Linked DNA regions of Homo sapiens. The protein of the gene in region 1 purifies or fractionates together with the protein of each later gene. This does not show direct contact. Each region holds a gene or a part of one and is shown in the gene's direction. Other genes may lie near its edges.

Region 1 (4,411 bases):
ACTCTCATCTTTTGTACTGATGAGATTTCTAATAATGCTCCAAATTTCTTTCTTGAGGTCCACCCAGGGCTTCTGACCAGAAAGAAGAGTGACAGCCTAGGATTCTGCTCAGAGAAGCCATGAAGATAATAGGAGGCTGGTGTTTCCCAGTGTCCACTCATCTGAACTCTTGCAGGCAGGCTGCACCATCAAGGGCCCATTACCCGACGTCTCTCTGCCTCAGTCCACTCTCACTCCCAGGTGCTGCTCACCTCCACACCTTAGCCCATTCTGGAAGGCCCTTTGAGTCCAACTGCCTCTCCTCCTGCAGGCTGGTTGTGGACTCTGGAAGCACCTGGGGTGCATGTCTATCACCCGCACTGTTTATGAATGTGTCTCCCTTCTCCCTCAGAAGCCCTGCAACTCCCCAGAGCCCCACACAGCAGTGTCGCTGTGTGGTGACGGCTGACTTGAAACCAATGCACGCACATTTACCCACTCACCTTCCCACACGCCTCGCATAGCTTGCCACAGCTCGCTGCTGCTGCCTAAAGCACACAAGTAACCTCTTAAGTACTGAAAAGACAGTCGAGGGTTTCCCCTGCACCTACTTTTCCAAGCTTATACGACCTGCCTGTTTCTTCTGTCACCCAAATAAAGAACAAATGTGCAGTTCCTCTACTCCAGACCTGTCCCAGATATGGGCTGGCTAAGGCTGCTCTTCGACCCCTCACCACTTTTCCTGTCCTACTCAGCCCCGGGATAAATTTCAAACCCAATCTCATCATGACTCCCCTGTTTTTCTTTCAACATCCCATAATTTATTGTCATTTCTGCCCCTCATTGCCCCCAGAAAAGTTCACCCTCTATTATTAGCATCTCAGTGGTGTCTTGTGCTTATATTAACTCTTTTATTGATTTATTAATGAATGTTTTTCCTTTTTTTTTTTCTTGACAGATATATCATCGCTGTTATCTTCTGGATCGCTGTACACCCAGATGCTTAATATATCTTGATTGGGTCAGAGTGCCTGGTGACTCTTACGCTAGCCTCATTTCTCGGCTTCATCTTGTTAGAACAAATTTCCTCGCCCTCTTCTCCTAGGCCGCCTGCCAGCGCCGCACCCACTCCTGCCCCTGCCTGCACCCCACCCACTTCCCGGGGACTTCCGAGCCCACGCCCACATCCTTTACCTCCAAGGGGCAAGGAAGCTGTTGACTTAAGATCCCATGTGGAGCAGTCAGATGCTGCTGGAGAACTCCCCGCACTGCAGGCTCCAGACACACGACCTGGCCCCTCCCCCGTGGACGCCTATACTGCTCTGTTCTCTAATTCCAGGGTTCCCAACCTCGGGGTTGTGCCTTGCAAATACCTGGGAAACTTTTCTAGCTAATGCCTAGGCCCCTACCAACCCAGAAATTCCCATCTAATAATCTAGGGTACAGCCTAGGCATTGAAACGTTAAGCCTAAGAGAAATCCGGCGCACGCATCCAGTTTCCACCACCGAATTTCCAGCTTCTTAAATCTGCAGGTCCAGAAAAAGAAGATGGGAGTGCTGCCCACGTCGCGCACTGGGGCTACGGCCGGCCCCACCCCTGGCGCTGCCGCGGCAGTCCCGCCCTTGGACTTGGGCGGCGCCTGGATAAACACCTGAACCTGACTGAGCTCCGAGCCAGGGACTCGGGTGCCTGGGGCAGACGAGGCCGGCTTCTCCGCGGACAGCTAGGGAGAGTGTCCTGGGTAAGTTGCCGAGGTCGTCGGTCCTGGGTGCTGGCTCCCGGAGGAGGTCGCGCTGGCGGGGGTCGGGCGAGGCCGCCCTTTGGGCTGGTTTCACGCTGGGTCGCTCGCAAGGGGGCGCGGGTCGCCGAGCCGCGGCAGGACCCACCCGCGAGCTGGTGAGAAAGCAGCTGCACCGGGTAGCGCACGGCTGAGCGTCCCAGAAGCCCGGGCTCCCGTGGCTACGGCTAACGCAGACCCCTCGCCCCCGGGGGTGAGCTGCCAGCCTCCCTCCCCACCCGGAGCAGAGGGCAGGATGCCTCCCCGGACCCTCTTCTTCGGTCCGTTCTGCCCAGGTTCCCTGCTCTCTGCTGCTCAGTGCATCCACCTTCCGGGTGGATATCAACCCCCATATCACCCCTTTCAACCCAAGCTGTGATTGTCAGTCTGTCTGCCCTCCCGTTTCGTCCGGGTGCCCTCACCAGAGCCGACTTGCTGCCGCGCACTGGTATGGGAAGCCGAGGGCGCCTGTTTGGATTGGGTAGGCCGCGAGATAGGGACACCTAGAAGACTTCTGCCAGATTAAATTGTATACGCTCCGTAACATTCTAGGAAAGTCTTTGCAGTAAAATGGAACCGTACATTCACTCTTGTTTGTAAGTATACTATAACCATATTTAATTGATATAGCCAGGGATTATTAATTCATATGCTTAACAGGACCAGTGGAAGTTCTAGCCATTAATTATTTTGCTGTCATTCTGTGCCTGGCACTGTTCTAGAAAGGCCTCCATGTTTTATGGCTGTGCCACATTATTATGGGGATTGAGGAGCAGAGGGGGAGACATGTAAGCTGGCAGGTGTTGAAATCCAAACAGCTCCTCTTGCACCCCCTCCCCAACCCCTTGCACCCCGCAGAGGACTTTGTGCAGGGCAATGCCTTTTTTTTTTTTTTTTTCTAATTTGTTCGAAGGTTTCACACAAGCTAGTAGTGACCACATAATGCTCCTTAAAACTTTACCTATATAAACTGGTTTAATTCTCACAGCTCCTCTGTGTGGTAAGTATTCCTATGCACTATTAGAAACTCCCTTTTTAGAGGAGGAAACTGAGGCACAAGAGATTAAATCATTTCTACCAAAGTTGCAGGGAAAATCAGTGATATATCTGGAATTCCAACCCAAACTTTAATCTCTAGACCTCATTGCCTGTGTGGGTACCCAGCAGGCACCCTAAACTTCAACTGGGGAAGGGAGGTAACTCAGGCTGACAAGCTCTTAGAAATCTAGTAAGCATCTGCCAAGACAGGGTTAAAAGATGGACATATTTTAGGTCTTGCATCAAGCCAACATTGAGACAGTGGAACACTGAAATCTAGAATGTCCTGACATTAAGAGCGTTCATGTCACCCAGGTCAATGTTGAGACTTCTGGCCACTGCTGAGGTGCTGGAGCCCTGTGATGGGAGAAGTAGACCTCTGTCCCTCTATGTGAATTCACATAGTGATATAAAAGGGAATGTGGTGGTCTGACCAACTACTCCTGGTGTGGATTTTCCAAAGTTGGCGACGCCCAGGCTGCTGTCTGAGAAGGGCGCCTAGGGTTTCCCATTACTGTGTGCACAGTCTGACCCTCATCCTTGCAGATCCACAGGTACAGGCTCCATGTATTTGATATGAGAGTCCTCTTTCAGGACACCTTTTCAAGTTCTGCAGTGCCTGAGAGGCCTGATCAATCATTCAAAAGTTACTCTGTGAATGTAAATCAGAGCAAAGATCACAGAGAGTTTGAGGTCTATTTCATCAAAGCATGGATGAAAACGTTCTTCATTTGACCAGAGCATCCATGTTCCTTAGAGCAAACATTCTTATTCTCTGGACAGCCCTGGACACACAGGTCAAACCTGCCTTAAAACAAACTATTTTGTCCCTCTGCCAGGAAAGCTACTGCTCAATATCCCTACCTCCCACCATCATCATTTGGATATCCACTCAAAGGGTCACTTTCCAGCAGACATCTGTTGCTTCCTCTCCCAAGCCCAATCTGAATCAGCTCTCCGATCATCCTCTCCATAGCACACTGCACTTTTCTTTATAACACTATGGCTTATAACGATCTGTTTATTTGTTGAATACGTCTCTTCAACTAGATTACTTGGCTCACCTGCACAGAGATTATGAGAGGCTGCCCATCCCCTCAGCCCCAGTGCCCAGATAGAACCAGCACAGGGTGGATACTCAATAAACATAACACATGAACCAATCTGGCCCTCACCAGCTAACCAGCACAGGGACCCTGAACAAGTCACATACATCTTCTCTTCGATCCTCAGTCTCATCTGTACAATAAGCCAGGAACAACAGCCTGGGTTGCATCGACTCTCGACATTTCCTAAGGGTGTGACCACATACCAAGTCCTCCTGTAGATGAATCTATCCACCCTTACTCATTAACCGCAACTAGGCTGACTTCAGCCAAACTGTGAAGACCTGCTCTTTTTTCATTACTCCCCTCCTGTCTCCTCACACCTGTGCCTTTGTCTGAGCCTCTCAATTAAACACCCCATTCAGAGAAGGCTCCCACCCCCAGCACAGTATGCTGTCTGCTAAATATGTCTTCTGTTCCCATCCTGAAGGAAATAAGACCTTCCCTTCTTTCTCAGCTAGTGGTTAGTAAAGCACACCTTATATATTCATTCACACTAAAGTGTGAGTA
Region 2 (3,809 bases), on another chromosome or scaffold:
GCTAGTTGTAGGTGAGCCATGGACCATTTGTGATGACAGGTGGAGGGTGTGCTGCCTGGCTAGCAGGCCTTGACAGGGTTGTCTCTGCCAGACACGGGCACCAACGCGTGTTACATGGAGGAGGCACGGCATGTGGCAGTGCTGGACGAAGACCGGGGCCGCGTCTGCGTCAGCGTCGAGTGGGGCTCCTTCAGCGATGATGGGGCGCTGGGACCAGTGCTGACCACCTTCGACCATACCCTGGACCATGAGTCCCTGAATCCTGGTGCTCAGAGGTGACCTGGCAGGGGGCCCTGACCTTTGGTTCCAGGCCCTGTCTATGACTGCTCTGCTCCCAACCCCTTCTGTCCCTGTTCTCAGGCCCTTAGGCCCCTCCCTGTCACTCTGAGGGTCTCCAGGGAGCAACCTGGGGGCCCTGGCCAGGTTCAAAGAAGGAAGGGCCCAAAGTTCTAGAATCCAGAATTGTCAACCCTTGATCTTCCCTGTTCCTGACTCTGGCCTGCCCTGACAGTTTGGGGGTTGAGGGCTGGAAGTGGTTGAGCAAACTGCTCTCTGCCTTCCTTTGGGTCCTTCTTGTTCTCCAGGAGGCTTCTGAATGTAACCTATGTCAGAGGGGGCAGTGGGGTCTGGGCATACACCCACCTGTCCTCTGGGAGGCTATTCGTTGCTTCTGGAGTCTCCAGTTTGGGAGCCCCAAAGAAAAGAATCCTTCTTTGGGAACTCTTGGAGGTAGGGCCAGGTGGACTGAGGGCTTAGAAAAGGCTTCCTCCAGCCACCCTTCCCCCCTGCAGGTTTGAGAAGATGATCGGAGGCCTGTACCTGGGTGAGCTGGTGCGGCTGGTGCTGGCTCACTTGGCCCGGTGTGGGGTCCTCTTTGGTGGCTGCACCTCCCCTGCCCTGCTGAGCCAAGGCAGCATCCTCCTGGAACACGTGGCTGAGATGGAGGAGTGAGTCGGGGAGATGGTGGTTTAGTGGGGGATTCTTGGCTTGGAGGAAGGGGATGATACTCTGTTCCCAAGGTAGCCATGGGGCTTTAGTGGGATGGGGAGCTTCTGGGCTGAGCCCCAAACCACTTCCCTTTCCCCTCCAGCCCCTCTACTGGGGCAGCCCGTGTCCATGCTATCCTGCAGGACTTGGGCCTGAGCCCTGGGGCTTCGGATGTTGAGCTTGTGCAGCACGTCTGTGCGGCCGTGTGCACGCGGGCTGCCCAGCTCTGTGCTGCCGCCCTGGCCGCTGTTCTCTCCTGCCTCCAGCACAGCCGGGAGCAACAAACACTCCAGGTTGCTGTGGCCACCGGAGGCCGAGTGTGTGAGCGGCACCCCAGGTATTGTGGAAACGTGATCCGCATGATTAGTTGGCATGAACACGTGTGTGTGATACACACCCAGAGGGCCCTCTGGGATCACATGTGCAAGCCAGTGGACACGAAGGGCACTTAGGCAGAGGGAGGGCCAGACTGAGCTATGGGAGGCCAGAAGACATCCAAGGAGAGAAACGATGCTTCCCTTTGTGTGTGCAAGGGTGGAGGCCATGGCGACACGGGGGCGTATGGCTGGTGCACAGAACAGATTTCAAATTGAAGTGATAGGGGAGGCTGGCTATGGTGGTACACGCCTGTAATCTCAACACTGGGAGGCTGAGGTGGGAGGATCATTGGAGCCTGGGAGTTTGAGGTTACAGTAAGCCATGATCACTCCGTGGCACTCTAGCTTGGGTGAGAGAGCAAGACTCGATATCTACAAAAATAAAAAAAAAAAAGTGATGGGGCCTTGGGCTTCAGGAGGCCCTAGGGGTCTGGGGCCAAGCTGGGCACACCTGTATGTATCTGGGGGTCCAGGGCCAAGCCGTGCACACCTGTGTGTGTCTGGGGGTCCAGGGCCAAGCCGGGTGCACCTGTATGTATCTGTAGGTTCTGCAGCGTCCTGCAGGGGACAGTGATGCTCCTGGCCCCGGAATGCGATGTCTCCTTAATCCCCTCTGTGGATGGTGGTGGCCGGGGAGTGGCGATGGTGACTGCCGTGGCTGCCCGTCTGGCTGCCCACCGGCGCCTGCTGGAGGAGACCCTGGCCCCATTCCGGTTGAACCATGATCAACTGGCTGCGGTTCAGGCACAGATGCGGAAGGCCATGGCCAAGGGGCTCCGAGGGGAGGCCTCCTCCCTTCGCATGCTGCCCACTTTCGTCCGGGCCACCCCTGACGGCAGCGGTAAGGACCTGGCCTGAGTGTGGGACCGAAACATGGGCTCCTGGGGGTCCCAGTGTGTGCTGGGGCTGGAGCCACAAGCCCTATCCCGGCACTGAGGGTCTCTGCCCCCACAGAGCGAGGGGATTTCCTGGCCCTGGACCTCGGGGGCACGAACTTCCGTGTCCTCCTGGTACGTGTGACCACAGGCGTGCAGATCACCAGCGAGATCTACTCCATTCCCGAGACTGTGGCCCAGGGTTCTGGGCAGCAGGTACCCACAGCCTGAACCTTGATGTCAGAGGTGGGGAAGGGCTGAGCAGTGCCTACGCCTGACCTGTCCTGCCCCACAGCTCTTTGACCACATCGTGGACTGCATCGTGGACTTCCAGCAGAAGCAGGGCCTGAGCGGGCAGAGCCTCCCACTGGGTTTTACCTTCTCCTTCCCATGTAGGCAGCTTGGCCTAGACCAGGTGAGGGAGGGCCAAGAGAAGTGATTCCCAAGGGCCTCCTGCCCCCACATACCCTTCATGGAGTGGGCAGGAGGCAGGGGAAAAGGCTGGGCGGTGGCGGGTCTGGGGTTGGTGGTGGTGGCAGCACTGCTGGGCTGGGCTTGCACACAGCCTCAGTTTCCCCAGACAGGGTAGGCCCAGGGTTAGGGTCTGAACCATTTGGGAGCAGGTCAGGCCTAGACTGGGGCTGATCAGAGGACAGATCGTCCATTTTAGCTATAGCACTGGTGTGTGGGCCTCAGGGTCCTGCAGGAACCAGCATTTGTTCCTGTCTCTAGCAGGGGCTTGAGGTCGCTTGGGGTTTTTTTGGCCTCTCTCCTCCTCCTTTCTTTGTTTCCTTCTCAGTGCCTGGCTCAGTGTTGGGTGCATGACTAGGGTGGCAGAGTGCCAGGCACAGGCTAAGACACACATCCCTACTCAGCACACACTTTAGCTTGTTCTTACACAAGGATGAGGGACTTCTCAATGTGCACACCGGAAGCCTGTCACGGAAACAATACCTCCCGGGCCTCTGGTCCAAACTCCCAGGAATCTCCCTTTCAACATACCCAACTTCTGCTTGAAAGCCTCTTGCCAAGGAGCTCACTGCCCCTGAAGGCAACAGTTGCATTCTTAGACACCTGTGATCAATGAAAAGCTTCATCTCACCTACTCCAACCAGCCTCCATGTGATTTTCACCCCCTGCTCCTGCTCTGACCTCTCTCTGATATGCAACTCATTTTTTTTTTTGAGATGAAGTCTCACTCTGTCGCCCAGGTTGGAGTGCAATGGCATGATCTTGGCTCACTCACTGCAGCCTCCACCTCCTGTGTTCAAGCAATCCTCCTGCCTCAGCCTCCCAAGTAGCTGGGACTACAGGCACATGCCAACACGCCCAGCTCATTTTTAGTAGAGATGGGGTTTCACCATGTTGGCCAGGCTGATCTAGAAATCCTGATCTCAGGTGATCCGCTCACCTCAGCCTCTCAAAGTTCTGGGATTACAGGCGTGAGCCACCGCACTCCACCTGATATGCAACTCTGTACTCTGCTTTCTTTTACACGGTGGTCCTTTGGATGGTGCAGTGGGCCAGTCTTGCTGCTTGGCTGCTCTGCTCCAGGCTAAGCCTGCTCAGT

What was found.
Region 2: the proteins of SDR16C5 (region 1) and HK3 purify together in Homo sapiens (affinity purification with mass spectrometry; one large-scale study listed by BioGRID and IntAct). This does not show direct contact.

What each region holds. Positions count from the first base shown.
Region 1 is NC_000008.11:56,317,369-56,321,779, reverse strand, and holds the start of SDR16C5 (epidermal retinol dehydrogenase 2), read left to right. Parts: upstream 1-1,604; 5' UTR 1,605-1,721; intron 1,722-4,411. UniProt on the Homo sapiens protein: Oxidoreductase with strong preference for NAD. Active in both the oxidative and reductive directions. Oxidizes all-trans-retinol in all-trans-retinaldehyde.
Region 2 is NC_000005.10:176,885,847-176,889,655, reverse strand, and holds part of HK3 (hexokinase-3), read left to right. Parts: coding exon 1-11; intron 12-91; coding exon 92-275; intron 276-791; coding exon 792-947; intron 948-1,090; coding exon 1,091-1,324; intron 1,325-1,909; coding exon 1,910-2,205; intron 2,206-2,318; coding exon 2,319-2,455; intron 2,456-2,534; coding exon 2,535-2,654; intron 2,655-3,758; coding exon of another isoform or gene 3,759-3,809. UniProt on the Homo sapiens protein: Catalyzes the phosphorylation of hexose, such as D-glucose and D-fructose, to hexose 6-phosphate (D-glucose 6-phosphate and D-fructose 6-phosphate, respectively).